4 linked regions of the Homo sapiens genome follow. The protein of the gene in region 1 interacts with the protein of each later gene in a pairwise test. Each region holds a gene or a part of one and is shown on either strand. Other genes may lie near its edges.

Region 1 (7,018 bases):
CACAGGCCATAGAGGACCCCTTTACAGGACAAGAAACTGAGCGTGGAGAATGAAGTGCCTATCCATCGTGTCATGGTTCCTCAGAGGTTCCAGCCGAGCCCTTCCGACTCCAAATCTGGCCCTAGCTCCTCCACCCCTGCACCCACCGCCCCAGCTCACCCCTCCTTTTTCCAGCCACCCTGATAGTGATGTCACACTTCTCTGCTTCAATGCTCTTTATTTCATTAGGAAAGTAGCTGGGCAGGGGTGTTCCCCTGGGGGATGGAGTGGGGGTACAGACAGTAGCCTGGCTCCTGTCCCCTAGGATTGACAAACCTGTAGAGGAGAAGCAGAGGCGAGGCCTGAGCAAGGGGCTCTGGGGTGGTTCTGTGTGCTTGCCTGGCAGAGAAGGGGTTCTGAGAGGCCCCCTGATCTGTCACCCCCCACTTGGAAGGGGGGTCCCCAGGCAGGACTTGCTTAACCCAGGGCTTGAGAGGCAGGGCTGGCCCATAACGGTTGCCCACACAACCAGAGCAGCTGAGTGTGGGGATCCCCAGCCCCTTACCAAGGGCTCAGGGCTCAGCTGTGTGCCACGCAGCGGCTGCTGTGAGGTGTGTTCTGGTAGAAGGGGTCAGCTGAGGTCAGGGTTCTGCAGGGAGGCAAGAGGAGAGTGTTGGGGGTGTTGGCAGGCAGGGCATGGACCTTGTCTTCTTGTCTTCTGCCTGACCCTCCCTGAGAGAGCATAGCCAGGGTTCAGCCAGGGCAGCCAAGCCACAAACATTCTTTGCCTGCCAACTCTGGGCCATTGTTGATATAAATGTAATTTCTGAGGAATTGAATTGAGCAGAAAGGAGCTGAGTGAGGCCGAACCACAGTCCATTCATCTCTGGATCCGTCCCCGCATCCCCCTCTGGATCTGAACCACCCCAGAGCCCCTTGCTCAGATCCTCCCCATCCAGTCCACCGGGCCTGGGGAACAGGGGCAGGAGAGGGAGGAGGAGCCATCTGAGGGAGGGGTCACTGGAAGGAGAGGAGGGGAGGAGCCTGTGCTAGCAGGAGAAGGGACACCAGAGCCAGCCAGAGGAGATGGGCCTCTCATAGGAATGAACCGGACTGACAGCAAGAGAGGAGAGGAAGGGAAAGGCCTGGCACACGGCCTGGATGAGGGGTAGGGAGAAAGAACAGAGCTGGGGGTGGTGCCACCTTCCCACGTGGGGATGCAGGTGCCGCAGGCTCTCCATGGGGTTGGGGGTGGCCTCCATGCAGCTGACCGGCTGGCTGAGGGCGTAGCCTCCTGGCATCTGGGGCTGGATGCCACCTCGAGTCCAGCCTTCCTGGTCTAGACCCTTGGGGATGTTCTCAAAGTACCTGGAGGAGAGGAGGGGTCCTTGGCTGGAAGCTGGACTCTGCCCACCTCTGCAACCCCTGCTGCCCTTCTCCATCGACCCTCAGATCGCCCAGCCTCCCCACCTTTGCTCATGCTGTCCTCGTCTAGCTCTCCCTAAGCCCACGTCCACTGGGGGAACTCTTACTCAAAAAGCCTGCCCTCCCCTCCACCTGACGCTGAAACACTCTTTGGAGTGTTAAAGGACAGTTTCAGTGATGCCCCTGTCCCTGGCCTGCCAGTACCTTGGGGTGGGGACCCCGTCTCATCCACTTCTCTAGGCACTTAACTTTCCTTCCATTTCATTTCCATTTCCTTCCATTTCACTGAGCACAGCCAGGTCCAGAGGGTGCAAAGACAAGTAAGAAGGGGGTCCCACCCTTGAACTTATGAAGAGGGGGTGCAGACAGATCAATGCAGGAATCAGTGATGACAATCCCGGGGCTCTGCGCGCACCAGGAAGCACCAGCAAGCGTGCCTGACAGCCAGCAGGAGCTCAGGACACAACAGGACACGACAGGCTGGAAGGACCCAGCAGACAGGACTGGAGCTGGTCTCTGCCAGAGCCACAGGAGGAGGTGTTTGCCTAAGAAGGGGTCAGAACATCGTTGCCCCTCCCCCACCTCCGTGGGAACTGGAGCGGCCACTGTGCTGAGTCTGCTGTGCGGGCGGAAGCTCTGCTCCTCCCCTCTGAGCCTCAGGGTTTAGGCCAGAGGACAACAAACGGCCCTTCCAGCTCAGACTCTCTGTTGCTCCTCCAGGACACCGCCCTCCCCTCTTTTCAGTCTCAGTTCAAACGTCACCTGCTCAAGGCCACCGATTTCAAATCCGACCCGTGCGCACTGCAGCCCTCGCGATCCCTTTCTCTTTGCGCATTACCTAACAGCTCTCGCTAACTGGCTGCAGCCACATGCATGTCTCCTCCCATGCAGAGGTCTGAGCTCCGTAGGGCAGGAGCTGCACACACATTCCCAGGGCCTGGAGCAGGGCTTGGCACCCAGTCAGGGCTCAGTTAAAGTCTATTCCATGAATGGATTCTGGGAGGTATCCCGGAGCAGGGGGTGGGGCAGGGGGAGGAGACAGAGAGGTGGCAGGGACACCTTGAAGGACCAGGAGTTGGAGAGGAAGCAGGGTGGACACAGGTGACTGATGTTGTGAGGAAAGCTTGCGCTTCCTGGCTCGGAGTTTGTCCTAAGAATTATACTTCCTGGAGGCGGGCAGATCACGAGGTCAGGAGATCAAGACCATCCTGGCTAACACAGTGAAACCCTGTCTCTACTAAAAATACAAAAATGTAGCCGGGCGTGGTGGCAGGCGCCTGTAGTCCCAGCTACTCGGGAGGCTGAGGCAGGAGAATGGCGTGAACCCGGGAGGCGGGGTTTGCAGTGAGCCGAGATCGCACCACTGCACTCCAGCCTGGACGACAGAGAGAGACTCCATCTTAAAAAAAAAAAAAAAAAAAAAGGAATTGTACTTCTTGGCAGGACACGGTGGCTCATGCCTGTTATCCCAGCACTTTGGGAGGCCAAAGCAGGCAGATCACTTGAGGTCAGGAGTTCAAGACCAGCCGGGCCAACATGGCGAAACCCCATCTCTACTAAAAATACAAAAATTAGCTGGGCATGGTGGCACATGCCTGTAATCCCAGCTATTTAGGAGGGTGAGACAGGAGGATCACTTGAACCCATGAGGCGAAGGTTGCGGTGAGCTGAGATCACGCCATTGCACTCCAGCCTGGGCGACAGAGTGAAACTCCATCTCAAAAAAAAAAAAAAAAGAAGAAGAAGAATTACACTTCCTTTATACCACTCCTATAATGCTTTCCCCACCCAGTCCTGGCCCCAGGAGGCTTCCCCATGGCTCTGGGGCCACCTCCTTCCTGGAAGCCCTCCCTGATGCCCAGGACAGTCACTCCTAACCCAGGGAATGCACAGCACAGAATTTACCTTCTGAGGGAGCATCGAGCCCACCAACCATTGGCTGGATGGAATGTCTTAGCAGATGCTGCTGCTCCAGACTCCCTCGCACTGCCCTGTTCTTTCCATGCCCACCAGCCTGGCCACCAATGCCCTGCATCTCTGTGGGAAAGCTACCCTTGGGATGCTAGAAGCTGCTTTGCCTGAGCAAGGAGGCACCTGGGCTTTAATGTTGCCCTGGGGATAGCCTTTAACCAATGACCGATGGATGTGGGGGTATAAATACCCCAGCTCTCTCACCTTTGACTGGGGTAGTTCTGAGTTGTGTGCTTTACACTGTTTTCTAGAGTTTTCCCAGTGGGATAGCTGGCCTAGTAACATGCTCATTATTGCTGCCTTCCCTCCCTCATCCCTCTTCTCCACTCCCACACGCCTAATAACTGCCTGATAACATGCTTGCACTCCAATCCTTGGCTTAGGGTATGCTTCTGGGGAACCCATATTCACTCAGCATTGATCTTCTCCACGAGGCTGTGAGCTCATTACTTATCCCAGTCTCAGTCTGTTTCTCAAATGGGTTTCAGCTTTGGACCAGGAAGCGGACCTCACCCTTGGTTGTAGGTGGTCAGGTATCGCTGATCCCTGTCAGGATCACAGGGGCTCCGGACATACATGGGGTTGTTAAGGCTGAACCCTGTGGGCTCCTGCACAAGAGGGGTAGACAGGGGAATTGTCAAGTCAGAAGGGGTGGGGATTTGGGGGTGGAGGCTAGGTGTAGCAAGTCTCACCTTTTTCCCCACAGTCTCCCGGCCAAGCAGGGCAACGTTTGTCTGTTGCATCCGATGAAGTGGCTGAAACTGCTGGTGACTCACGCTGCTGGGTTCTGGGCAGGGAGGGGGCACCTGCAGGGCACAGAACCACCAGAAGGGAGGCTGAGGTGGCCAGCCTGAGGCAGCAGGGATGGAGAGGGGAGCAGGCAGAGGCACACACAGCTGTGACCTGTCCACAGCCCCAGCGACCCTCCCTTCCCCTTCCAGCCAATTCTATTTCAGACCACACCCCTCATCTTCCAGCCCCCAGGAAGGCCCAGGCTCTCTTCACCCTCCACCTGAGGGCCTACCTCCACATCCCTAAATATCCTAATTCTTCTCATTCTTCAATGCCTGACCCAAATGCCACCTCTTCCCAGAAACCTCCCTGTCTTCTCCCTTCTCTGAGCAAGACGCCAAGGCCACTCACTCTGGGGTTCAGAATCCTTTCATTCCCTCGGCTGAAGGCTGTTTCCCGCTTGGAGCCTCTGGCCAACACAGGTAGGAACTCATCTCCCTGGAGGGAGCAAAGCAGCCACTGGCACCAGGATGTGGCTGCCTCCCCCACCACCTTCCAGAGCCATGTTCTAACTGCTCCCCGCCAGGCGGTCCCCAGCCTCCCCCTAGCTCAGCTTACATGTAGGTGAGTCTTGGGGAGGAAGTCTGACTTGGTGACACTCTGGCCTGGGAGGAGGGCCTGGAAATAGGCCCACAGAGGATGTCAGCCCCGCAGAGGCAGCCTGGGCCCCTGGTGGCTCCCACCCACTCTGCCTCCAGGCCACTGCTGTGCTGAGCACAGAGGAGGACTCAGCTCAAATGGGCATCACTGAGAAAAGGGAAGTGTTTGGGGAGAAGACAGGGGAAGGCATGACTCTGAATGGGACCAGCAGGCCAGGGCTCTTGTCTGAACTCTGAATGACATTGGCTACACCTCCTTCATCTCTTTGGACCTCAGTCTTCTCATCTATAAATGGGGGACTTGGACCAAAGCAGTGGTTTTCACCTAAGCTCTTTCGTCTTGTGTTTGAACAAAGGGCTCTGCAGCTCACATTCTTTAGGAAAGCTAGAAACCCTGAGACTGGAGGGCTTCAAGCCCCCTAAAGTTCTAGCAGGAGCCCAGCCGACTTACAGGGTCCCCAGGGAGGGCCTGTGAGGGCGGTTGGAAGACAATGGGGCTCTGGTGGGACTGTTTGGTGAAGCCACTCCCCTCCTTTGCGCCGATCGATTTCTTCTGCAAGAAATCTGCAAAAGAAATGCCCTGTGTGCTGCCAGGCCACCTGGCCCACCCATGTGTCCTCCAGAGGCTCAGTGTCCCAGCAGGTGCAGAGGGAGTGGATCCCAAGATCCTGGAGACCTGCGCCATGAGGATCGTGGGTGGCAGGGTGAGGATTCCAGAGTCCAGGCCGGAGGACAGGAGAGGGAGCAGCAGGAAGGGCATGCACCGGCCAAGCCACCCTCCTGAGAGGCCCAAGGTACTGAGGTCAGCCCGGGAGAGGCGCTTCCCTCCAGCCACCTGTGCATCCTTCTTTCTTCCACTGGTGCCTTCTCAGTCCTAGGCCAGCTCCAGGGCCCCTGGGGTAGCAAGTAGGGAGGTGGATTGGAAGATGGGAAGGGAGCTGTGAGTTCAGACAGGGCCTACCTGGCTGGTCTAGAGGGTCCCTGAGATACTTGGAATTGTACTCCGACGTCATGAAGCGTGGGCCCTGGAACAGAGAGGTTGGAGGAGTGGGGGCACTGACCCACCAGGGCCCCGAAGGCGTGTGGCGGCGGTGGAGTGGCGCCTCGGTTCTCTGTGCTCTGAGGAAGCCTGTGTGGGCCAGTACAGCACCCTGGACACAAGTCTCTGTGGGGTGGGACATCGCAGGGCCAGGAATTTCAGCACAAAGCACAGTTCCCCTGTGACTATGAATACCACGTCACACCCCACACCAGACTCCTGGTAATGAGTGGGGGGCCCAGAGGGACCGAGACCAGGAGGGGCCGTGAGCAGGAGGAGGAAGGCTGGGGGAAGAGGAGTAGCGTTAAATCGCGAGAAGCCACATTGAGGCTATTTTGGAAATAGCCAATATCAAATCCTTTGCTCTCCCATCTTTCTTGGCGCCCTGAGCCCACCCTGAGCTGGCTTCTTGGGTGAGTCAGTGCAATACTTGTCTTGAGGTGGGAGGAAGAGGCGGGTGTGGCCCCTCTGCCCCACCCCGAAGCCCTTAGCTGGGCTGCCACTCACATGTCGGAAGTTCTCCCGCTCCAGCGGGTCCTGGCCCTGCTGCTGGTGGAGCAGAGGCACTTCCCTGGGCTCCAGCCCCGTGATGGCCTGAGGCCCGTGCTCCTGGGTGTCGAAATGGACCTTCCGGACCTGGGAGGAAGAAGGGCCAATTACAAGTGAGGGGGCGGCAGTCACTCCCTGACTCTGCTTCTGCCCTTGACCTTTACAGAGCGCAGTATCTGCAGAGCAGCCAGAGGGGGTCCTTTTACAATGAAACCTGCATGTCCCCTCTCTGCTTAGAGCCCTGCAGCCTTCCCATCACACTCGCAGGGAATTCCACGTCCTCCTGGTGGCCTGCAAGGACCTGAGTGCCTCACCCTGCTCTAGCTGCTTGTCTCCTTTCTGTTCCCACCTTGAGGCCTTTGCACTTGCTGTTGGCACTGCCTGGACCACTCCTCCCTCAGACAGCTGCAACTGGAGGAGCTGGCCTCCCTCAAGTTTTTGTCCAGTGTCTCCATAGCAAGCTCTTTCCCGACCCTCCCGATTTGCAGTTGCAACTCCTTCGCTTCTAATTTATTTATTACTTACATTTTTTGAGACAGAGTCTCGCTCTGTTGCCCAGGCTGGAGTGCAGTGGCATGATCTCAGCTTCCTGCAAACTCCACCTCCTGAGTTCAATCAATTCTTGTGCCTCAGCCTCCCAAGTAGCTGGGACTACAGATGCAAG
Region 2 (6,902 bases), on another chromosome or scaffold:
CCTGGCCGCACCGACCTTGCCCGCCCTTTGAGGGCTGGGTCTTGCGGGCAGACGGTGCCGACAGCCAGGCTGGCCCTCAGAAGAGCCTGTGCTTCTCTTGCAGCCTTGCTGGCCAACGTCGGCACCATCTCTGCCATCCGCTACTTCCGCCGGCAGGTGGGGCAAGGGCGCCGCAGCCACAGCCCCAGCCCCAGCTCCTAGGAGCCAGGCCCGGGCCAGGGAGATGCAGGATGAGGAGACGACCACAGGCGCCCAGGGCAGGACGAGGTGCCGCCCTCGCCCGGGCCCTCTGACCCCTCTCTTCTACCGCGTCCAGGAGGGGGGCGTGTCCTGGTGCTGCTCCCTCCGACTCACCTGAGGATCCAGCCAGTGACCACGGCCACTCCCCACGCCTGGGAGGGAGGTGCTAAAGTCTGGGTGGGTGGAGGGCAGGCAGGTGGCTGGGTAGGAGGGTGGCCAGATTCACAGATGAGAACACAGGGCATTCGGTTAATTTCAGACAGGCAATAGTGGGGAGGTCATTTTACTAAGAAGTTGTTGTTTATCTGAAATCAAATGCAACCGCACCCTGCGTTTCTTCTGGGGTGCAGGGGGAGCTGAGTGGCAGGACAGGACTTGGACCTCGGAGGGGTCTGAGCAGCAAGACACTCCGGCTGGAGCTCTGGGCAGAGGCAGGGGAGAGGACACAGGGTGGCCTCAAAGAGGGGATGGGCAGCCTCCTCACAGGTGGGCTGGGCTGGCAAGGGCTCCAAGGCCCATCACTCTTGATCCTCAAAGGACTGTGGCCAAGGCCTCTGCGGGCTCTGGCCTGAGACAGCGAAGGCTCTGCCTGCCCCTCCCCAGTGCAGCAGCCCCTGCAGGGTGGGGGTCTGTGGCAGAGCCGCGAGCCCCTCCCCGGGAGCCCTGGGTGCAGGTGCAGAGGGAGAATTCGGTGGCCTCAGATGGAGGGCTGGGCTCCTGGGGTTGTCCCGGGGGCTCCTGTGGGGCAGCTGGGGACCCACAGCCAAGAGGAGTCAGAGATGAGGTGGGAAGGTCGGTGAGGGGCCCGAGGTGGCAGAGGAAGGGGGCTGCCTGGCTGGGTGCTGGGTGGGGGTCCTCAAGACTGTGGGAGACCCTGGCTGCTGAGCAGAGAACACATGGATGCAGCACCAATAAAATTCTATCTTTTCTTTTTCTTTCTTCCTTTTCTTATTCTCTCTCTCTCTTTCCTTCTCTTCTCTTCTCTCTTCTCTTCTTTTCTCTCTTCTCCTCTCTCTCTTCTCTCTTTTTTCTTTCTCGTCCGGTGGTGTCAACGTCTCCCGTGCTGCCCTGTGGTGCGCGCCAGGCCACACAAGGACCCACCCACCCTCCTCCTCGGGGCACCCTGGCTTGTGCTCCTCACACCTTGCTGACCTGTGACCCTCATGCCCTCTGACCTCACATACTCTGACCCTGCTGACCTTTCTCTGTCCTCCGACCTTCACGCCCGTGCTGCCCTCCCACTCCCAGCGAGTCTCCTCCCTGACTCCTGGCGGGCTGAGCTGAGGGCCGACCCTGTGGACGGCCAGGACCTCCCTGACCTGTGACCCAGCCTCGCTGGCCAGGGCATCCTTTGGATGGGGCCCCTCCCACCCTTCCCTGCCCCAGCTGCTGGCACCAAGGAACAGGAGCTGAGGGACGGGCTCTGAACTCAGGGCCCCAGAGACTCCCCCCATCACACTGGGTTCAGACCCTGACTTGTAATTTGAAGTGGGTTAGAGGGGCAGGTACCCTGGAGCTTGGCGAGGGTGGTCCTGAGAACCCACCTCACCGCGGCCATCAGATCCACTGCACAAGCCCCCCACTGGCCTCAGGCCCTCCAAGCTGGGGGCACTTCTGGTGGGAGGAAGACAAAGTCTCGTCCCAGAGGTGGTCGTAGCCGGGGTCCCGGCTCCTCCTGGGGGACCGACCATCTGGTAGGGAAGGCAGAGATGTGTCAGCCTGTGGGAGGCAACAGGCACTCACCTCAGGAGGCAGGATCCTTACTCACCTGTCAGAGGCAGCCAGGGTTCGGGCGAACCTTCCCTGGCAGAGGAGACCTGGAACCCCAAACCGCAAGTCTGAGAGCCGGGCACAGCCCCAGGCAGGGAGCTTGGAGGCGGCCTGTCACTGTGCAGCCCCCCATGTCCCCCTGCTCTCCCTCCCCAGTCCCATCTCCCCAACTCCCTACTGGCCCCCCTGGCCTCCATCTGCCCCCGTCCTCCTGTTTCCCTCCCTGCTCCCTCAGAGTCCCAAGAGGCCCCACACCAGACCCCCGGCCAGCCCGGAGCCCGGGGCACACGGGCGTGGGGGCTGCTACTCACAAGCTGAGGGGCGTCTGGGGGCTGCGGCCCCCCATCCTTGGCTGAGCCCCGGTGTCTCTGAGCGGCTCTGGACTGCAGGGCTCCCTTCTTGGAGAGCAAGTAGGGGCCAGCGGGGCCGGAGGAGCAGGAGCGAGGGTCAGAGGCAGGCACAGACACAGGCACCGAGGGGAGTGGGCTCGAGGGCGTGGGTCCACGTGCACTCTGCATGGCACTGAGGAACTGCAGGGAGAGCCAGGGCTGGGGCCTGGGTGGCAGCCAGGGGCCCCCAGAACCTCAACCTCCCATCAGAGCCTGAACAGACCTCAGGCTTGGGGCAGCCCCAGACCCCAGGGTGAGACGCACGGTCTAGACCTCCCCAGCCTCAGGCTGCAGGCACCTCCCACCCTTTCTGTCACCCAGCAGGGGCCTGACCTCCTCCAGGCCCCGGACATCTGTGACCCTGCGGTGGGAGGTGGCGGGTGGTGTGTAGGGGTCGGCATAGAGGGGCGAGTGTGATGTTTCCGAAGTGTGGTCAGGGGCATCTGGGCTGCTCTCCAGGCTCAGCCTGTGCAGCTGCAGGGCAGAGGTGGGAGAAATGGGCTTCTCGGCTAGAAACAGCCTAGGCCACCCCTTCTCTGTGCAAGAGGCCTCTGGGTGGCTCCAGGACAACTGGGCCCAGAGACAGAGACCAGTGGTGCGGAACGGTGGGAACCAGGCCAGGGGCTGTGTGGGTGTGCTGGGCCCACCTGGGTCAGGTCCAGGTGCAGTGGGGTGACAGGGCCGCGGCCCTCTGCCCGGGCCTTGCTCCCGGGTGACCGGCTGCTGCCACTGCGTCTCAGCTCGGTCCTCCGTCGGCCAATGCTGGCACGGTCAGAGTTGGCCTGGTCCTGTGGGGACCACAAACCTTCCAGGAAGAGCCCTTTGGCCCCTCTCCCGTGCAACTCTCTGAGGCTGCAAGGGGCTCCCTCCAGTCTGAGTTCCCCTGAGGAACCAGGGTCCCCAACACACACCTACCCGACAGCCTTCTGCCCCACTTTCGTCTGCCACCCCGTAAGCGCTCACCGGTGTGTGCTGGGAGGAGCAGCCCACGGTGGATGGCACTGAGGACTCAGGCAGGGAGTGGCTGGTGCGGGTGGAGGGGGGCGCCAAGCACCCCGAGTCCCAGCTGGTCTGTCCGCCTGAGGAGAGTGAGCCTCGGCCACTGCCCATAACCTGGATGGGCAGTGAGTGGGGGTGAGTGAGGGCTGGACCCCCTCCCCACCCGCCCCTGCCTGGACCCACCGTGCTGTCCCCCCTTTTATCTTTTTGGGACGAAGTCTTATTCTGTCGCCCAGGCTGCAGTACAGTGGCACGATCTCGGCTCACTGCAACCTCCGCCTCCTGGTCAAGCGATTCTCCTGCCTCAGCCTCCTGAGTAGCTGGGGTTACAGGGATGTACCGCCATGCCCGGCTAATTTTTTTGTATTTTTAATAGAGACAGGGTTTCTCCACGTCGGTCAGGCTGATCTCGAACCCCTGACCTCAAATGATCCGCCCGCCTCAGCCTCCTAAAATGCTGGGATTACAGGCGTGCGCCACCACGCCCGGTCTGCTGCCCCCTTTTTACCACTGCCCAGGACCTGGGCTGTGGGGCCTATTGACCCCTCACCTGCGACCCTGGGAAGCTCTCGGCACCAGGCAGCGGCGGGGCCCCCTCCCTGTGGGTGACAGCGCGAAGGCACAGCAGCCAGTGACCGTAGTCCTCGTAGCTGGCGCACACCACGCGGATGGTGTTGATGAGGGGGCCTGGCATACAGATGCTGTGAGGGGCTGGCGGGGGGGTGCACCCCTCAGCGCCCCCACTAAAGAGTCGGGCGTCCCCCAGGCTCCCGCCCCACCATGGCCTGGCCAGGCGGGAGGCAGAACCAGGGTCAGGGCCCTACCTTCAATCAGGAAGGAGCGGATCTGCTTCTCCTTCTCCTCCAGGTTGATGTGGACGGCACGGAGTGGGAGCTCCCCCTGCGGAGCAGAGATTGAGGGCCAGGCCTTTGTAGGGGCAGCCCCGGGGCCCCGCCTGGCCTCATCCCACCCTCTTGCCCTCCAGAGCTTGGCTGGGTACTTGGAGAGCTGGGCACCGAGGCCACCACCCTGAGGGAGGCCAGTGGGTCCCATGTCTCCTGGGGCTACCACCAACCCTGGCGCGGGGGCCTTCGCCGGCTAGGGGCAGACACACAAAGCCACAGGACTGGCCTCTTGGGGTCCCCAGAGAAGAAGTTGGGCCGGGTGAACCATGGGGAGGGCCCTGTGTTTGTTCCTCAGTGACTGAAGGTTACCGTGAGTGCACACCCCCTTCCCGGAGCCCGCCCTGGAGGACACACGCACACGCACGTGTGCACACACACGCCTCACGGGCAGGCACACACAAGGGAGTCCCCGGGAGGGGCTCTCAGCCCCATGCTGCCCGCCCCAGGGTGACGGTCAAGAACCTCAGGGTGAGAACCTCAGGGCGGGCAGGGGCTCCTCCATGTCACAGCGGAGACCAGACTGACCAGGACCGCGGGCTGGGTGGGCAGGGCCCTGCGCTCTGTCTCAACAAGCCCCGAAATACAGGTTCCTCCTGCATGGCTGCCCCCTCCCACCCCCACACAGCTGCCTCCCTGGGGCGGGCCCACAGTGGGGAGGGGCCCACCTTGAAGCAAAGCCCGTCCAGCTCCTCGGAGAAAATGGCCAAGGACGTTGGGTACAGGACCAAGAGCCGGTCCCACTGCTCCTGGGTGGGTGGGGGTGGGGTCAGGCGATGAGGGAACTGAGCTGCTGTTGCACCGCCCTGCCCACCACCATGCACCCCTCCCATCCCCCTACAGCCCCACGCACCTCCCACCCACCTGTGCGGGCAGGTGCTGCAGCTTGACCCTCGAGGCACAGACAGCACTGCCGCCGGGTTCGTGCCCTGACGCCGTCCGCAGCCGGGTTAGACGGCGCTGCAAAGTCCAGGGGAGTTCGTCTCCGCAGGACCCCTGTGAGGAGGAGGTCAGAGCCGGCTGCGAGGATCAGGGTGGGGAGGGGGGTGGGGTCCCCGGCACTGACCTGTGGGGGTGCCGAGTGGCAGCGCCGCGGCCCCCCGAGGAGGGCCGTCTGCTTCTCCAGGTGGTAAAGCCAGCGGTCCAGCTCGGCCCGGCTGGGGCAGAGCACCAGGAGGGGTGCGGGCAGTGGGCCTGCGGGCAGGGCAGAGAGGGCACACACATACACACACGTGCTCCGCAGCCACAGGGCAGGCCCCTCTCCAAGTCCTGGGTCAGGAGTGCCTCTGGGGGCCCGGGAAGCATCCCAAACACCTGTGATCTGGAAGGCGTGCTCTCGGGACCCCTCGAGCGGGCAGACACTCAGCTCCGTCAGCGGTAACAGCCCCTGCCAGGCACAGGGTAGGAGGAGCTTCAGGGATCCATGGAGGGAAGGGCGGCCATGGCCCCACCCCATTGCCCACCGCCTCACCTGAAATGTGAGTCCTTCCGAGCCGTGGGCCTGGAAGTACAGGTGGGCGGGGAATAGCTCCAGGTAGCAGTCGCTGACATCCTGCGCGGGGAGCAGGGTCGTCAGTGCGGAGTCTGGGGAGCCCCAGGCTGATGGGGATGCTGCACCCTTAGCGTGCTCCACCCAGCCCGGCCCCCACCTGGCTGTGCTGGAACCGCAGCTGGACCTTGGCGTAATGCACAACTTTTCCCAGGTTCCTCACAGGCACCCTCCGCCGCCCCTTCTTGAACACACTCAGGAATGGCTGCTCCAGGTTTTCTCGCTGGTTCTCCAGGTCCAGGATGTCCTAGGAGGAGTAGAGCTCAGGGGAGGGGGCCTCCCCTGGGCCCCCCACCCCCTCCGCTCGCATCCACACAGCTACAGGACTATAGCATGGTCTGCCTGTGCATAGCCACACAACACATATGTGAAGAACAGCCCCCCACAGGCACAGAACCTGTGCACAGCCACACAACACATACGTGAAGAACAGCCCCCCACAGGCACAGAACCTGTGCACAGCCACACAACACATACGTGAAGAACAGCCCCCCACAGGCACAGAACCTGTGCACAGCCACACAACACATACGTGAAGAACAGCCCCCCACAGGCACAGAACCTGCACACTCAGCCTTTCCACAGGAAAACAGTCACGGCAGAATTTACACACACGTGCATACATATATGCATACATGCATATTCGTGTACACGTACACGCACACACACCCGATACGTGCACATGCAGGCAACATGCATGCATCCATATATGCGCACACATACACATGTATAAATGCATACACGCACACATGCATACACACACAATAGACACATACATGCCACACAATACAGACACAGATGCATACACACGGGAACACACATACGCACTTATACACACATGTACACACACGCACACATATGCATGGATACACACGTGCACACATACACAGTTGCACATACACAGATATGCACACACGTGCATACATGCATACATATCCACACGCAAATACACCCATACACATGTATACACATACACACGTGCACATACACACGTGCACACATACACATGCACACCTATACACACATGCACACACATGCATGCACACATGCACA
Region 3 (7,018 bases), on another chromosome or scaffold:
CTCCTGAGCTGGTGAGGATCGGCGCGGCCCGGGGCGTTCTCTAGGTAGTGGGAGTAGCAGAACCACAGAAGCCAGCAGCCAAGCCCGTGCGGGGGTGAAAGAGGGACGGGGAGCCCAGTGCCACCCGTGGAGGCGCTCCTGACAGGGGCTCCACCCCAAGGTCATGGTGGGGCTGCGGTCGTCCCAGACTCCAGGACCAGAAGGGGCTCTGGTTTGAATCCAAGCTCACGGCCTTCAGGGGCTGCAGAGAATTCTAAGCCTGAGGGCTCACAACTGCACCTGCTGAACTCCCTTTACACCAAAAAGGGCCAGGGAGGGGACAGTTTGGCAGGGAGGTGGCGTGGTGGGGTGGAGGCTGGAGTCGGCACGGTTTGTTTAATTCTAGTTCTCTTGCTGTGAACGAATCATGCCACCTCTGAGCCTCGGTTCCCTGATCTCAAACGGGAAAGACGAATATGTAACCAAGCTGGAATTGCTGTGATGGCATGGCTGCTGTGACCTGGAGGGAAACTGCTGGCAAGACCACACCCCCCAACCCCCATCCACACACCCCACACCTCCACACCTCCTCACACCCTACACCTCCATACACCCCACACAGCTCCACACACCCCACACCTCCACACACCTCACACCTCCACACACCACACACAGCTCCACACACCCACCTCCACACACCTCACACCCCACCTCACACACCCCACACTTCTACACACCCTACACACCTCACCCCTCCACACACCTCACACCTCCATACACCCCACACACCCACCTCCATACACCCCACACCTCCACACACACTCCACACACACTCCACACCTCCATACACCCCACACCTCCACACACCCCACACACCCTCACCTCCACACACCCCACACACCCTCACCTCTACACACCCCACACACCCCACACCTCCACACACCCATACAGACTGCCCGAACCCAAATCCTGTCACGGTGGCGAGAACGCCAGACCAGAACGATGGCCCCCAGCTCAGGGTCGCCCTCCGTGTGGCTGGAATGCCCTACTCAGGCTGAGGGGGGCCTTTTCCTTTGGAAAAGCCTGCCAACTCCAGAGCCATCTCCGGGTGAGCCTGGGCCTCGCCTCTGCCCAGCCCTGGTGAGGCCGGGCACAGCATCCCACCCCCGCCCACCCACCCCAGCCCTTGCAGCTTTTCAGAGCAGAAGGGAGCTTTCCATTAGCCACGTGTCTCAGAAGGGGCCAGCCAGGCGACCCACCAAGAGCGTGTCCTTCCCAGGTAAACCCGAGTGCCACAGAAGGTTGCCAGCCCGGGCTGCCAACGAGTCTGGCTCCTCCCCCAGGGCAGGGGAAGGGCAGGGCGTGCAGAGCCCTGGGCTGGGGGCAGGAGCTCGAGGCCCACCCCTCCCTGAGCCCACCTCCTCGCCTGTGGGCTGGAGGTCGGACACGATCGGAAGCCACCCTTGCCGCATGCCAGGCGCTTCGAGTATTTCCTAGACCTCGCCAAGCCCCTCTGCTAAGCGGAGGCTCCGAGAGGACCTGCTGAGATGACACAGACACTGAGGGCCAGCAGGGCCACGGCCACCCTCCCTGCCCGCCACCACGCCCACTCAAGAGCGTCTGGACTGGCCACAGTCCACACTTCCACAGCCCAGGGGTGGAAGCAGGGCCAGCACCCGCTTGGGAAAGGTTCAGAACTTGACCATCACAGGCTGCTCCGAGCAGGTCTTGCTGTAACTCCCTGGACCTGCTGTGGTCCTAAAGCCCCTTCTTCTGTGGCCATGCAACGAGCAGGGCAGGGGTCACCGAGGGACCCCTCTCAAGCAGCCCACGTGGCGGCCACACAGGGCTGGGGGTCAGGGCAGCAGACCTGGGCAGCAGACCTGGGCCGCTGTCTGGGGGCCTTTCCCGAGACACGTGCTGGCCCTGGCGGAAGGGACGGTTGTCCCCGCATCCTGAGCCGGGCGCCGCCTCTCACCCACAACTTGTTGCTTACAAAAATCACAAAGTCCTCAAGAACAAGCCCCCTCATGCCAGCTGTGACTGGAGGAGAGGAGCTGAACTCTGGGGCTGCGGTGGAAAGTCAGCTTCCAGGGGCCGCCTCTGCTGCCGAGCGGGGGCAGGGAGAAGGGCCACTGAGCCCCTTCCCCCAGGAGTCAGGGAGCAGAGAGAAGGAAGAGGGTCTGTGCAGAAGAGTCAGAGGCAGCGAGGCCGGAAGGAGGCTTAGCAAAGGCCAGAGAGCTTTTGGGAACAAGAACTACCTTTCACGGACATTTTCCTCAATCTCTTAACTGAGCCGTGACTTTTGGAAGCCAGACGGGAGGCGGGAGGGCTGGTGGGCTGGGGTGCGCGGCTAAGACACACAGGGAGTCCAATGGCTGACATCAGAACACTCGTCATGCCTGCACGGGTGTGAGAGCAGACACGCAGAGAGGGAGAGACATTAGAAGACTCCTTCGGCATGTGACGCCAACAAACCCTGCTCAGGCCAAGGATGTGACACCATCAATGGCCACGGGGACGCACAGGTCTCCCTGGGGACTACCCAGGCCAGGAATCAGAGGGTGGGGCAGCCTGGCTCATGGTAGCCCTGGCCCCAGAGCCCACAGGTTTCTATAGGAGCAACAGACAAGCCCGTGCCCTCAGTGTGCAGGTGGGCACCGGGGCAGGACCCGTGACTTCAGGAGAGCAGAGGGCGGAGGACGCCACTCCAGGAAGCCGCCCGGGGCACGGGGTCTCCTGGGTGGGGCTGGCTCCAAGGGCTCAGCTTCCCCAGGAGGCCCTGGGCCCTCCTGGCTTGGAGTTACTAGGCCTCCAGCCTCCACTGGGTGCTGTGTGTGCTCCATGCCCCTCCTGGCTGATCTGGGTGCCAGGGCCTTCAGCGACAGCGCTGGGGTAGGCGGGCAGGAACGTGGCCCCTGGGCCTGCTCCCACACTGCAGCATCCCCATACTGTGAGGGCTGGGCTGCAGCAAGGCCCCAGGCTGTGGCTCTGGCGCCCTCGGGCAAGGGTGGGCCTGTGGCCAGCAGCTATGCTGGGACAGACCGGCCACTCTTTCCAGAGCTCACCACTGCCGGATGCCTGCAGGGAACCCCACACTTGCCCTGGGGGACTCTCCTCTGACACTGCTTCCTTCGTGCTCCCTGATGACCCAGCGCTTCCTGGGACACAGCGTGTCCTGCTGGACGAACCCGTTCCTGCCACACCCTCGGCCTACCCCACTTTCCATAGTGCCAGCTCCCCGGTCCTCCCTGTCATCGGTCAGTTAGGTCAAAAGCACCTCCTCTCCAGAGAAAGGGGAAGCCTAGAGCTTCTTAGCCATCTCTTAAGGTGGCTTCCAGGGTCTGCAGAACCTGGCTCAGGAGCTGGGCACAGCCGGCTGCCGGGGGAGTTGGTAGAAATCCCAGTCCTCCTGGACCCCACTCCCCATCCAGGAACAGATGGCGTGACTCAGGGGTGAAGGGCGGCCAGGCCAGCCACTGCGCCCCCACTAGAAGAACAAAGCTTCTCAACCCGGCACATGTGCCTGGCTGTGGGGACAGAAGCGGAGACCAGCCACCAGCCTGGGCAGCAGAGCCGAGGTGGGCAGGGTGAGTTGCAGTGGCCCTCAGCAGGAGACACCAAAGCGTGCATCAGAGGACAGAGGTTTGAGCCCGGGAGCTCAATGCCCCCAACATCCCAAGCTTGTTCCTGGGCTCAAATGCGGTTCCTGTGGGAACTGAATGTCGGGTGGAGAGAAGGACAAGCGGGCGCGGGTGGCAGAGAGATGAGAGAGGACAAGGACAGGTGCAGTTTTCCTCAAGAGAATCTGGTGCCTCTGCGCTGCCCACGTCGTCTGGGAGGACCAAAGGCCAGGACACGTCTCCCTACCCAGGGTTCTCCGGCAACACTGCCTCAGCGGGCAGGCCTTCCCTGAACACTGCCTGACGGGGCCTGTCCCTCCAAGCCTCCCGCCCCACCCTGCTGGACTCCTGCTTTGCACTCCCCTCTGTTTCTATGGACTGTCTTCCCTCAGCACGAGTTCCACGAGGTCCCACCCGTAGCTGCATCTCCAGCACCCCGCTGGGGCAGTGCCTGATCCCTGGGAAGCCTGCAGCCCTCTGTGTTTGCTGAGGAATGAAGACATCCTTGGGCCACCACCAGCCCCCAGGAGGCCGCATGAGTGACACACGTGTCCTTTTCAATGCAGGACCCACTCCCCTGAATTCAAGTCACAAACACACAAGTTTCAACCCAGAAGCCTGGAGAGGAGGAGGGCTAGGGACAGCCCCCCAAACTCCTGACAGCCCCCAAAACACCTGAATAACTCGGAGGGCCACAGCCTTTTTCTCCACCCATCTGGGAGGATTCCCGCTGTCAGAGCCCTGAAGAGTGAAGCCCCCACTCACTGATTCTCACTTCCAATTTGCAGACACCCCTCCTTCTGACACCCAGGGCCAGGGCTGAGATCCAAGCCTCTCCTCTGTGCGCTCTGACCTCCCCAGCCTGGGTTCGAGCCCAGTGCCAGCCCTCACCAGCTGAGCAGTCCTGGGCAGGCTGCTGACACCCATCCCTGCCCCAGGCAGCAGTGTGAGCTGTGGATGGACCGCTGCTGTGACCAGGTGAGGGGTGGAGACCCTGGCTCCAGCCTCACAGTCCCTGCCCCCACCCGATAGAGGGACTGGGCTATGCCACAGCCAGGGGAGCTGTCACCTGGAGGCACTGTCACCTGGAAGCAGTGCCTCCAGCACTCAGTCCTTCCAAAGCATGACCTCCTGGTTATAAACCTCTCTGCAAAAAGCCTGTGCGCAAACGCTCGTCTCCGCAGCCGGGCATGGTATAATTCCTCAACCCACAAGCACACCAGGGTGACAGGACACTGCTCTCCAGCTCTGGCTCCGGGGTGCTGGCCAGGCTCCTCTCATTCCCTGCTCCCCTAGACAATGCTCCCCCAGTAGGTACCAACACTGGGCCTTGAATTGGGGGAGGCAGGAGTCTACACAGCCTCCAGGCTCTCCTATTTCCTTAGGCCTGAACCAGCTTCCCGAATCTATTTCCCCACAAGTAAAATGGATGTTAAAATACCTGCTTTAGCTCCAGGATTGCTCTGAGAGCAACGGGGACAGACAACAGGATGGACAATTTGGGACACAGCCTGGACAGGACCTTCAGCCTCAAGAGCAGAGGAAGGGGGCAGGTGCTAACTCCACACCCAGAGCACTTAGATCTGTGTCATGGCCTCAGAGGTCGCTCACTGTCAGGCCTGGCCACGAAGGCTTGCGAGAGCCCCAGAACTGGAAGGAGCTGGGCCATGAGGAACCGTGTGGGGGCCCCGTCTGTTTACCCACAACCTGTCTCCAATGCCACCACGGCCGCACATGCACACACGGTACACTGTGATTTCCCTACGGCGCCGCACGGTGACTTCAGTGGGCAGGGACTTTCTGGCCAGTGTGTCTTGCTCATTCTGTCTCCCCTGCCCCACTCCAGCTCCTCTCCCTCCTGCCCCCACCTCTCTGGCCGCTCCTTCATTTTCTCTTCAGTCCTGCCCACGGTCTCTGTGGCACACACGCTCCCACGAGGGGTCAGGGGCACCCCATTCCACCCAAGACTGCTCTTCTGAGGCCCACAGCCAAATCCCACTGCCCCGGAACAGCTCCAACGGCCACTCCACAGCCATCACCCCCTCCCAACCTCCCCCTAGACTCAGCAGCACTGAACCGTCATAGGCAAGAAGGCCCGGGGCTGTGTCTCAGCTCTGCCAAGGGCTGGCAGAGAATTTTTAAATTCTCCGAGCCTCAGTTTCCTCTAATGAAAATGGGAACAAAAGCCTCCACCTCAGTGATTTAAGGACGAAATGAATTCACACACGCCAAGCCCCAGGCTGCTCCTCAGTTGTGACTGGCTGCACTCCAGCAGGCCTCAGTCTACCCCCAATCCCCCCTCACAACCCCCCGCCTGACGGCTCATGCCTCTGAATGTTTCAAGCCAAACCTCCCCCTCCACTCCACTGCCTCGAAGCTGGTCAGGCCTTGGCTGGTGCCCCCAGGTCTGAGGTCAGGCTCTGCACCAGCCGCCCTACCTCCAGGCCTGTCCCCTCTCAGCCACTATGACAGCAACTCCCCTAAAACACCAACTCATTATTGAATTCCGCCACATCACCCTGTGAACAACGATGGCGCCATCCACCTCCTTACATACCTCGAACTTTCCAGAAGTTAGAAAATAACCTCAGCTGGGCGTGGCAGCTCATGACTGGAATCCCAGCACTTTGGGAGGCCAAGGCATGAAGACGGCTTGAGCCTGGGAGTTCAAGACCAGCCTGGGCAACATAGTGAGACCCTGTCTCTACAAAAAATAAAAAACTTCCCTGGCATGGTGGCATGTGTCTGTAATCCCAGCTACTCAGGAGGCTGAGGCAGAAGGATCGCTTCAGCCCAGGGGTTGGAGGCTGCAGTGAGCTATGACTACACCACTGCACACCAGCCTGGGGAACAGAGCAAGATCCTGTCTCTTATAACAAGAAAAAAAAAATGGCCAGGCACGGTGGCTCATGCCTGTAATCCCAGCACTTTGGGAGGCCGAGGCGGATGGATCACTTGAGGTCAGGAGTTCAAGACCAGACTGGTCAACATGGCGAAACCCCATCTCTACTAAAAATACAAAAATTGCCCGGGCGTGGTGGCATGCACCTGTAATCCCAGCTACTCGGGAGGCTGAGGCAGGAGAATTGCTTGAACCTGGGAGGCAGAGGTTGCAGTGAGCCGAGATCCCACCACTGCACTCCAGCCTGGGCGAGAGAGACTCCATCTCAAAAAAAGAAAAAAGAAAAAAAATCCTGCCACCTGTGGAGCTTCTGAAAACCCTGCTAGCCAGGCTGCTAAAACAGAATGGGTGTGGGGGCCAGCAGTAGGTATTTTTAAGGATCCTTAAGGTGAAAGGATTGCTTGAGCCCAGGAGTTCAAGACTTCAGTGAGCTGGGTTAGCGCCACTGCACTCCAGCCTGGGTGACAGAGCGAGACTCTTGTCTCACAAAAAACCAAACCAAACCCAAAACAGT
Region 4 (7,873 bases), on another chromosome or scaffold:
TGGGAGGCTGAGGCGGGCGGATCACGAGGTCAGGAGATCGAGACCATCCTGGCCAACACGGTGAAACCCTGTGTCTACTAAAAAATACAAAAAATTAGCCGGGCGTGGTGGCGGGCCCCTGGAGTCCCAGCTACTCCGGAGGCTGAGGCAGGAGAATGGCGTGAACCCTGGAGGCGAAGCTTGCAGTGAGTCGAGATCGCGCCACTGCACTCCAGCCTGCACGACAAAGCGAGACTCCGTCTCAAAAAAAAAAAAAAAGTTTCGTTTTCCTTTTTTTTTTTTTTTCCAGAGTGGGAACTGAGGAAAGAAACCTACATATATATTACCGAATAGTACCAGAAATGAGGAACTTTTGCAGTTTTCTGCAAAACTTTTTAAGCAAGGCAACCATTTTCTGAGTAGAATACAACTAGTGAGTATTTCTTTTCACAAATGATGGGCACTATTTTGGGTTACCTAAGTGATTGTTTTTTGTTTTTTTGTTTTGTTTTGTTTTGTTTTTATTTTTGAGACAGGGTCTCACTCTGTCTCCCAGACTGGAGTGCAGTGGCACAATTTTGGCTCACTGCAACCTCTTGTCTCCTGGGTTCAAGCAGTTCTTCTGCCTCAGCCTCCCGAGTAGCTAGAACTACAGGCTTGTGCCACCACACCCGGATAATTTTTAAATTTTCAGTAGAGACGGGCTTTTGGCATGTTGGCCAGGCTGGTCTCAAACTCCTGACTTCAAGTGATCTCTCCTCCTCGGCCTCTCACAGTGCTGGGATTACAGATGGGAGCCACCGCGCCCGGCCCCAGATTGTTTTCTCTTTTTTTTTTTGAGATTGAGTCTTGCTCTGTCACCTAGGCTAGAGTACAGTGGCTCCATCTTGGCTCACTGCAACCTCCACCTCCTGGGTTCAAGCGACTCTCCTGCCTCAGCCTCCAGGGTAGCTGGGATTACAGGCACGCACCGCCACACCCGTCTAATTTTTGTATTTTTAGTAGAGACGGGGTTTCGCCATGTTGGCCAGGCTGGTCTCAGATTCCTGACCTCAAGTGATCTGCCCGCCTTGGCCTCCCAAAGTTCTGGGATTATAGGCATGAGCCACTGCGCCCGGTCAATTGTTTTCATACATATATACCTATACATGTTTCAGAGACATGCAGCAGATCCCAAGTGCCTCCAGGGCAGCGATCTGGGAGGGCTTTTCCAGTTGCTGACCTCACACCTGTGCCGTAGACAGACCCAAGGCCAGCTGGGGATGGTGGGCGGATCTTCCCTACTCCTGGAGTTTTCAAAGGATGGCAACAGAGCAGGTTGATAGGTGAACAGTTAATTCAGTACAGTTAGTATTTATTATTATTTTTTGAGATGGAGTCTTGCTCTGTTGCCCAGGCTGGAGTGCAATGGTACAGTCTTGGCTCACTGCAACCTCCGCCTCCGGGGTTCAAGCAATTCTCCCGCCCCAGCCTCCTGAGTAGCTGGGATTACAGGCGTGCACCACCATGCCCGGCTAATTTTTCTATTTTTAGTAGAGACAGGGTTTCACCATGTTGGCCAGGCTTGAACTCCTGACCTTAGGCAATCTGCCCACCTCGGCCTCCCAAAGTGCTGGGATTACAGGCAGGAGCCACTGCGCCCAGTTGTATTTAACTATTTTTGTAGTGTGTTTGTCTTGTTTTCCCAACTGGGCTGTAGCTTTTATTTTCCCCAGGGTACATGGCACACTGACCTCCCCAGATAAGCATTTGAGAGGGAGACCATTGTAAGCATGCTAGAACAGACGCAGCTGCAGCGATTCCTAAGATGACAAATGGCTGGGCAGGAGGTGGAAATTGTTTTTTGTTTTTTTGTTTTTTTTTTGAGACGGAGTCTCGCTCTGTCACCCAGGCTTGAGTGTGGTGGCACGATCGCGGCTCACAGCAACCTCTGCCTCCCGGGTTCAAGCAATTCTCCTGCCTCAGCCTCCTGAGTAGCTGGGATTACAGGCGTGCACCACTGCGCCCAGCAATTTTTTTTTGTATTTTCAGTAGAAACGGGGTTTCACCATGTTGGCCAGGCTGGTCTTGAACTCCTGACCTCAGGTAATCCACCCACCTTGGCCTCCCAAAGTGTTAGGATTACAGGTGTGAGCCACTGCACCCAGCCGGAAATTGTTTTAAAACAAAAATTCTTGAACGGGCGCAGTGGCTCATGCCTGTAATCCCAGCACCTTGGGAGGCCGAGGCGGGCGGATCATAAGGTCAGGAGATCGAGACCATCCTGGCTAACATGGTGAAACCCCGTCTCTACTAAAAATAGAAAAAATTAGCCAGGCGTGGTGGCGGGCGCCTGTAGTCCCAGCTACTCAGGAGGCTGAGGCAGGAGAATGGCTTGAACCCGGGAGGTGGAGCTTGCAGTGAGCTGAGATCATGCCACTGCACTCCAGGCTGGGCGACAGAGTGAGACTCTGTCTCAGAAAAAAAAAAAAAAAAAAAAATTCTTTCAAGGAAGATGTTAACCAAACCATCTCAAAAACAAAAACAAAAAATTCTTTCAAGGAAGGTGTTAACCAAATGGTCACGTCTAAGCTGATGAACTGTCTATATAACTCAGGTACCACCCTAGACTTTAAAGAACATTTCTTCCAAAGCATGAAAAAACATGATACTTTCAATCCTTAAGTCTTACATCAGTTTCCTTTGATTTCTTCAAGGAAGATGCCCCCAGGGTGTGGAGGAACAGCAGGTGTCTTCACTCATACCTTTACAGCAAAGATCCCCAAATTCCTAAACCCTAAGGCTCCAAATCTGTTTCCTAGCTTTAGCAGGCTCCCTAGACACCTCTGCTGGACAGCTCACAGGCTCCTTAAACTCCAAAATGGAATTCATCTCCCCCAAACCTGTTTCTTCTCCCTTGCTCTGTATCCTTGCAAGCGAGAGACCTGGGCGTCACCCTAGACTCCCTTTCCATTCCTAGCACCTTGGGAGTCTTCAAGATCTGTTTATTCGTCTCTGAAGAATTTGCAGGCCCTGCCCTTCCTGCTTGACTTCATTTTCCTGCTTGACTTCACTTGAAAATATGTTCTTCATTATCATTTTAAGATTTAAATGTAATGTTTGTAGAGATAATTCATTAAGAAAATGTGATCCTGGCTGGCGCGGTAGCTCACGCCTGTAATCCCAGCACTTTGGGAGGCTGAGGCAGGTGGATCACCTGAGGTCGGGAGTTCGAGATCAGCCTAACTAATGTGGAGAAACCCCGTCTCTACGAAAAATAAATTAGCTGGGCGCGGTGGTGCATGCCTGTAATCGCAGCTACTCAGGAGGCTGAGGTAGGAGAATTCCTTGAACCTAGGAGGCGGAGGTTGCAACAGTGAGCCGAGATCGTGCCATTGCACTCCACTCTGGGCAACAAGAGCAAAACTCCTTCCTCCCCCCGCCCCCCGCCAAAAGAAAAAGAAAATGTGAACCTATGAAGAAATTTATCCTACCAGCAAATGATAGTTTTTGTTGTTTTACAGTATTAATATTAAAAAAAACCCTGAGATACTTGGAACAAATCTGTAGGAAGTGATTTGCTTTCAACCTAAATGGGCCCATTTTTCTTTTCGTTTTTTTTTTTTTTTTTTTTTTTTTTTTTTGAGACGGAGTCTCGCTCTGTTGCCCAGGCTGGAGTGCAGTGGCGCGATCTCGGCTCACTGCAAGCTCCGCCTCCTGGGTTCAAGTGATTCTCCTGCCTTAGCCTCCTGAGTAGCTGGGACTACAGGTGCCCACCACCACGCCCGGGTAATTTTTTTTTTTTTTTTTGTATTTTTAGTAGAGACGGGGTTTCACCGTGTTAGCCAGGATGGTCTCGATCTTCTGACCTCGTGATCCGCCCACCTCGGCCTCTCAAAGTGCAGGGATTATAGGCGTGAGCCACCGCGCCCGGCCAATGGGCACATTTTTCATATCACTAAAAATTTCTTTTTTATTTTTTGAGACAGGGTGTTACTCTGTCACCCAGGCTGGAGTGCAGTGGCGCAATCTCGGCTCACTACTAAACCTCCGCCTCCCGGGTTCACGCCATTCTCCTGCCTCAGCCTCCGGAGTAGCAGGAATTACAGGCGCAAGCCACCACACCCCACTAATATTTTTGTATGTTTAGTAGAGACGGGGTTTCACTGTTGGCCAAGCTGTTGTCAAACTCCCGAACTCAGCTGATCCGCCGGCCTCGGCCTCCCAAAGTGCTGGGATTACAGGCGTGAGACACCGCGCCCGGCCTCCTACCACTAAAAATTCTTCGGAAGCACTGTTTCAAATCACGCAGAGCACTTAGAGTTTTCCCTTTTCTCAGCTACTGCGCTGTTGGGGGAAGGGGGACCTCAAGTGTTTGCAAAATAACTGTGATAATTACCTTTGTAGATAAATCTCTGAGTATAAGTTTTTGAGGTCAAGGTTCGAAATGGAACAAATTCCTTTCTACAAAGGCCAGGACCCCTTGGCCCTTCCGCCCGGTGCCTGGCTCCCCCTGACATCAGCCTCTTGGTTCGTTTGTGGAAGAGCAGCTCTATTGAGATACAACTCTTGTGATTAATTCATGTAAAATACACGGTTATGTCGGGTCATGTCACAGCAGGGGCGACCATCGCGGGTCCCACGCGCGGCCCCGGGCAGGACCAGCGTCCCGGGCCGGGGGCTGCAGGGCAGGGCAGGGCAGGGCAGGGCAGGGCAGGGCAGGGCAGGGCAGGGCGGGGCGCGGGGCTGGGGCGGGGTCTGCGGGCCGGGGGCGGGGCTGCGGGGGGCGCGGGGCTGGGGCGGGGCCGGGGTCTGCGGGCTGGGGGCGGGGCCGCGGGGGGCGTGGCCGCGGGGGCGCGCGGGGATATCCGGGGGCGGGGGCGCCGGCGCGGCGCATGCGCGCTGCATTGTTTTGACTGAAAATGCCGTCGGTTTCGAAAGCGGCGGCAGCGGCGCTGAGCGGGTCCCCCCCGCAGACTGAGAAGCCGACCCACTACAGGTCAGCGCCCGTCCGGCCTGCGGCCCCCCGCCCGCGCCCGGTGCAGCTCGGAGCCTCCCGCCGGGGCTCGCGCCGCCTCCGCCGCCCCCGCGCCCCCCGGCCTCCGCGCAGCGCCTGGGCTGGGGGGGCCACGACCCTCTGCTCTCGGCGGCCTCCGCCTGAGGTCGGAGCGCGGCGCCCATGGTCTGGGATGGCACCTGGTTCCGGGGTCCACGCGCCTCTGGGGAGGGAGGAACGCCCCGGGGTTGGGGGTTGCGCCTGGGCTCGGGGACCGGGACCCTCTGCTCCGGCTGCCGACCGTGAGGTCACAGCGGGTCGCCCAGGGTCCGGGGTGGCGCTTGGGCTTGGGGACCAGGGTCAGCGCCTGGGCTACGAGGTCGGGTGAGGGTCGCGTCTGGAGTCGGGATGGGGGTGGGCGCAGCGCCTGGGGCCCGCCGGGAATGTGAGTACGGGTCGACCCTGGGTTGAGGCTCCTGAGGCCGGTGGGTCCCGCCGCCCACGAGTCCGAGTCCCTGGAGGTGCTGCCGGAAGCGAGCCGCGGCGCTGTCTGTGTTTGTAGGTACCTGAAGGAGTTCAGGACGGAGCAGTGCCCCCTGTTTTCACAGCACAAGTGCGCGCAGCACCGGCCGTTCACCTGCTTCCACTGGCACTTCCTCAACCAGCGGCGCCGCAGGCCCCTCCGCAGGCGCGACGGCACCTTCAACTACAGCCCCGACGTGTACTGCTCCAAGTACAACGAAGCCACCGGCGTGTGCCCCGACGGCGACGAGTAAGCGGCCGCGAGGGGGCGCCGCTGCCTGGGCGGAGGTGGGGGGCCTCCACCCGGGGATGCGGCCGGGACCCTCAGCGGACGCCTTAGTGTCCATACCTGGCCCCTGCAGAGGGAGTCGTAATTATACGCTGAAATTTTCTAGTGACCAGGGATGCTGGGGCGGCATTTCCTATTCTCAGGCCAGTTCCCGAGGGATTATGTGTGTTTTAGGGGTAACCCTTGTGTGACTCAAACCAATTTTGCTTCACCTCCCACTTTTTTTTGTTTGTTTTTTGAGACGGAGTTTCACTCTTGTTGCTCTGGCTGGAGTGCAATGGCATGATCTCGGCTCACTGCAGCCTCTACCTCCCAGGTTCAAGTGATTCTCCTGCCTCAGCCTCCGGAGTAGCTGGGATTACAGGCATGTGCCACCATGCCCAGCTAATTTTTTATTTTTAGTAGAGACAGGGTTTCTCCATGTTGGTTAGGCTTGTCTCGAACTCCCAACCTCAGGTGATCCACCCACCTCGGCCTCCCAAAGTGCTGGGATGACAGGCATGAGCCACCGTACCCGGCCCCACTTTTTTTTTTTTTTTTTTTTTTTTTTTTTTTTTTTTTTTGAGACAGGGTCTTGCTCTGTCGCTGGGGCTGGAGTGCAATGATAGGATACGGCTCACTGCAGCCACCAACTCCTAGGCTCAAGTGATCTTCCCTTCTCAGCCTCCCAAGTAGCTGGGACTACAGGCTCATGCCATGCCAGCTAATTTTGCATAGTTTTTGTAGGGATGGGGTCTCACTACATTGCCCAGGCTGGTCTTGAACTTCTGGGCTCAAGCAATCCTCCTGCTTCAGCCTCCCAAAGTGCTGGGATTCCAGGTGTGAGCCACTGTGCCTAGCTGTTTCCCACTCTGATTTGACACAGTTCCTGCATGAGAACCAACCTCTGGCCAAGTGCCTTGTTTTGTGTTTCTATAGAGACAGGGTTCTTGCTGTAGCCTGGTCTGGTCTCAACCTCCTGGGCACAGCGATCCTCCCTCCTTGGCCTCCCAAAGTACTGGGATTCCAGGCATGATCCACTGCGCCCGGCCAGGTTTTGAAGCGTTTTGTAGTGGTCGGTTGCTTTCCACACAGAGAGCTTGTTAGAATATTCACGCTGTAGAATATATCTGGGATGTTTCGTCTCTTGATGTTTACGTATTTATTTTAATTTTAAGACAGTAAAGTTTTTATGTGCAGGCTCATTTATGTAGCATCGAGACTGAGTCTCGCTCTGTCACCCAGGTTGGAGTGCAGTGACTTGATCTTGGCTCACGGCAACCTCTGCCTTGTGCAGGTTTAAGTGACCTGCCTCAGCCTCCTGAATAGCTGGGATTACAGGCACCCGCCACCACGCCTAGCTAAGTTTTTGTATTTTTAATAGAGTTGAGGTTTCGCCATGTTGGCGAGGCTGGTCTCGAACTCCTGACCTCAGGTGATTCTCCCTCCTTGGCCTCCCAAAGTGCTGGGATTACAGGCGTGAGCCACCACGCCTGGCCCCTATGTAGCACTTTTAAAGTTAAGAAATCAAGGTTTTGTTTTGGTTGATTTTTTTCTTTTTTTACAAGGTTCCTAATAGTGTTATGAACAGATGTCTTTATTCTGAAGTATGCAAAATGGGAAAACAGGGAAAATACAAGTCAGATTATATATTCACAGACTGGCGGGAGGTGGTATCAGGTTCTACTTGCTTCCTGTGGGCTGCTGGCGGAGGGTGGAGGGCGGAGGGTGGTCCATTCCTGCCTAGGGGTGAGACAGCAGCAGTTGCGGTCTTGAAGTCTTCATCCCCTGATCTTTTGGAAGGAGCTGATTCTCCAGGGACCTTCCTGTTGAAGGCTGCTTTCAGCACGGAGATCCTTGTGAAGTCTGTTTTCCTTTATTTTTTCAACAGTGCTTAGCCTAGGCGATAAATTAAAAAAAATTTTTTTTAAGGACGCTAGAAACTTTAAATACTGAAATGTTTTTAATTGTACATTAGTTAAATAGTGTTTGTTTTGTTTTTGTTTTGAGACGAAGTCTCTGTCACCCAGGCTGGAGTGCAGTGGCGCCATCTCAGCTCACTGCAACCTCCGCCTCCCAGGTTCAAGCGATTCTCCTGCCTCAGCCTCCCGAGTAGCTGGGATTACAGG

Evidence for each region.
Region 2: the proteins of SAXO4 (region 1) and PLEKHN1 interact in binary tests that used the Homo sapiens proteins (3 or more experiments, as listed by UniProt).
Region 3: the proteins of SAXO4 (region 1) and DTX2 interact in binary tests that used the Homo sapiens proteins (3 or more experiments, as listed by UniProt).
Region 4: the proteins of SAXO4 (region 1) and UNKL interact in binary tests that used the Homo sapiens proteins (3 or more experiments, as listed by UniProt).

What each region holds. Positions count from the first base shown.
Region 1 is NC_000011.10:61,484,111-61,491,128, reverse strand, and holds the end of SAXO4 (stabilizer of axonemal microtubules 4), read right to left. Parts: intron 6,442-7,018; coding exon 6,313-6,441; intron 5,792-6,312; coding exon 5,728-5,791; intron 5,331-5,727; coding exon 5,218-5,330; intron 4,786-5,217; coding exon 4,726-4,785; intron 4,606-4,725; coding exon 4,519-4,605; intron 4,182-4,518; coding exon 4,068-4,181; intron 3,984-4,067; coding exon 3,889-3,983; intron 1,348-3,888; coding exon 1,183-1,347; intron 629-1,182; coding exon 559-628; 3' UTR 545-558; intron 316-544; 3' UTR 201-315; downstream 1-200.
Region 2 is NC_000001.11:969,471-976,372, reverse strand, and holds the end of PLEKHN1 (pleckstrin homology domain-containing family N member 1), read right to left. Parts: intron 6,097-6,902; coding exon 5,950-6,096; intron 5,853-5,949; coding exon 5,772-5,852; intron 5,688-5,771; coding exon 5,615-5,687; coding exon of another isoform or gene 5,495-5,614; coding exon 5,367-5,494; intron 5,297-5,366; coding exon of another isoform or gene 5,261-5,296; coding exon 5,165-5,260; coding exon of another isoform or gene 5,154-5,164; intron 5,050-5,153; coding exon 4,969-5,049; intron 4,299-4,968; coding exon 4,223-4,298; intron 4,086-4,222; coding exon 3,949-4,085; intron 3,513-3,948; coding exon 3,363-3,512; intron 3,188-3,362; coding exon 3,047-3,187; intron 2,874-3,046; coding exon 2,733-2,873; intron 2,541-2,732; coding exon 2,322-2,540; intron 2,058-2,321; coding exon 2,009-2,057; intron 1,932-2,008; coding exon 1,798-1,931; 3' UTR 508-1,797; downstream 1-507. Other genes in the region: PERM1 (PGC-1 and ERR-induced regulator in muscle protein 1), read left to right, coding at 104-201. UniProt on the Homo sapiens protein: Controls the stability of the leptin mRNA harboring an AU-rich element (ARE) in its 3' UTR, in cooperation with the RNA stabilizer ELAVL1.
Region 3 is NC_000007.14:76,492,700-76,499,717, reverse strand, and holds part of DTX2 (probable E3 ubiquitin-protein ligase DTX2), read right to left. Parts: intron 2,382-7,018; coding exon 2,241-2,381; intron 1-2,240. UniProt on the Homo sapiens protein: Regulator of Notch signaling, a signaling pathway involved in cell-cell communications that regulates a broad spectrum of cell-fate determinations.
Region 4 is NC_000016.10:1,411,699-1,419,571, reverse strand, and holds the start of UNKL (putative E3 ubiquitin-protein ligase UNKL), read left to right. Parts: upstream 1-4,867; 5' UTR 4,868-4,880; coding exon 4,881-4,957; exon of another isoform or gene 4,958-5,120; intron 5,121-5,516; coding exon 5,517-5,726; intron 5,727-7,320; exon of another isoform or gene 7,321-7,643; intron 7,644-7,873. UniProt on the Homo sapiens protein: May participate in a protein complex showing an E3 ligase activity regulated by RAC1. Ubiquitination is directed towards itself and possibly other substrates, such as SMARCD2/BAF60b. Intrinsic E3 ligase activity has not been proven.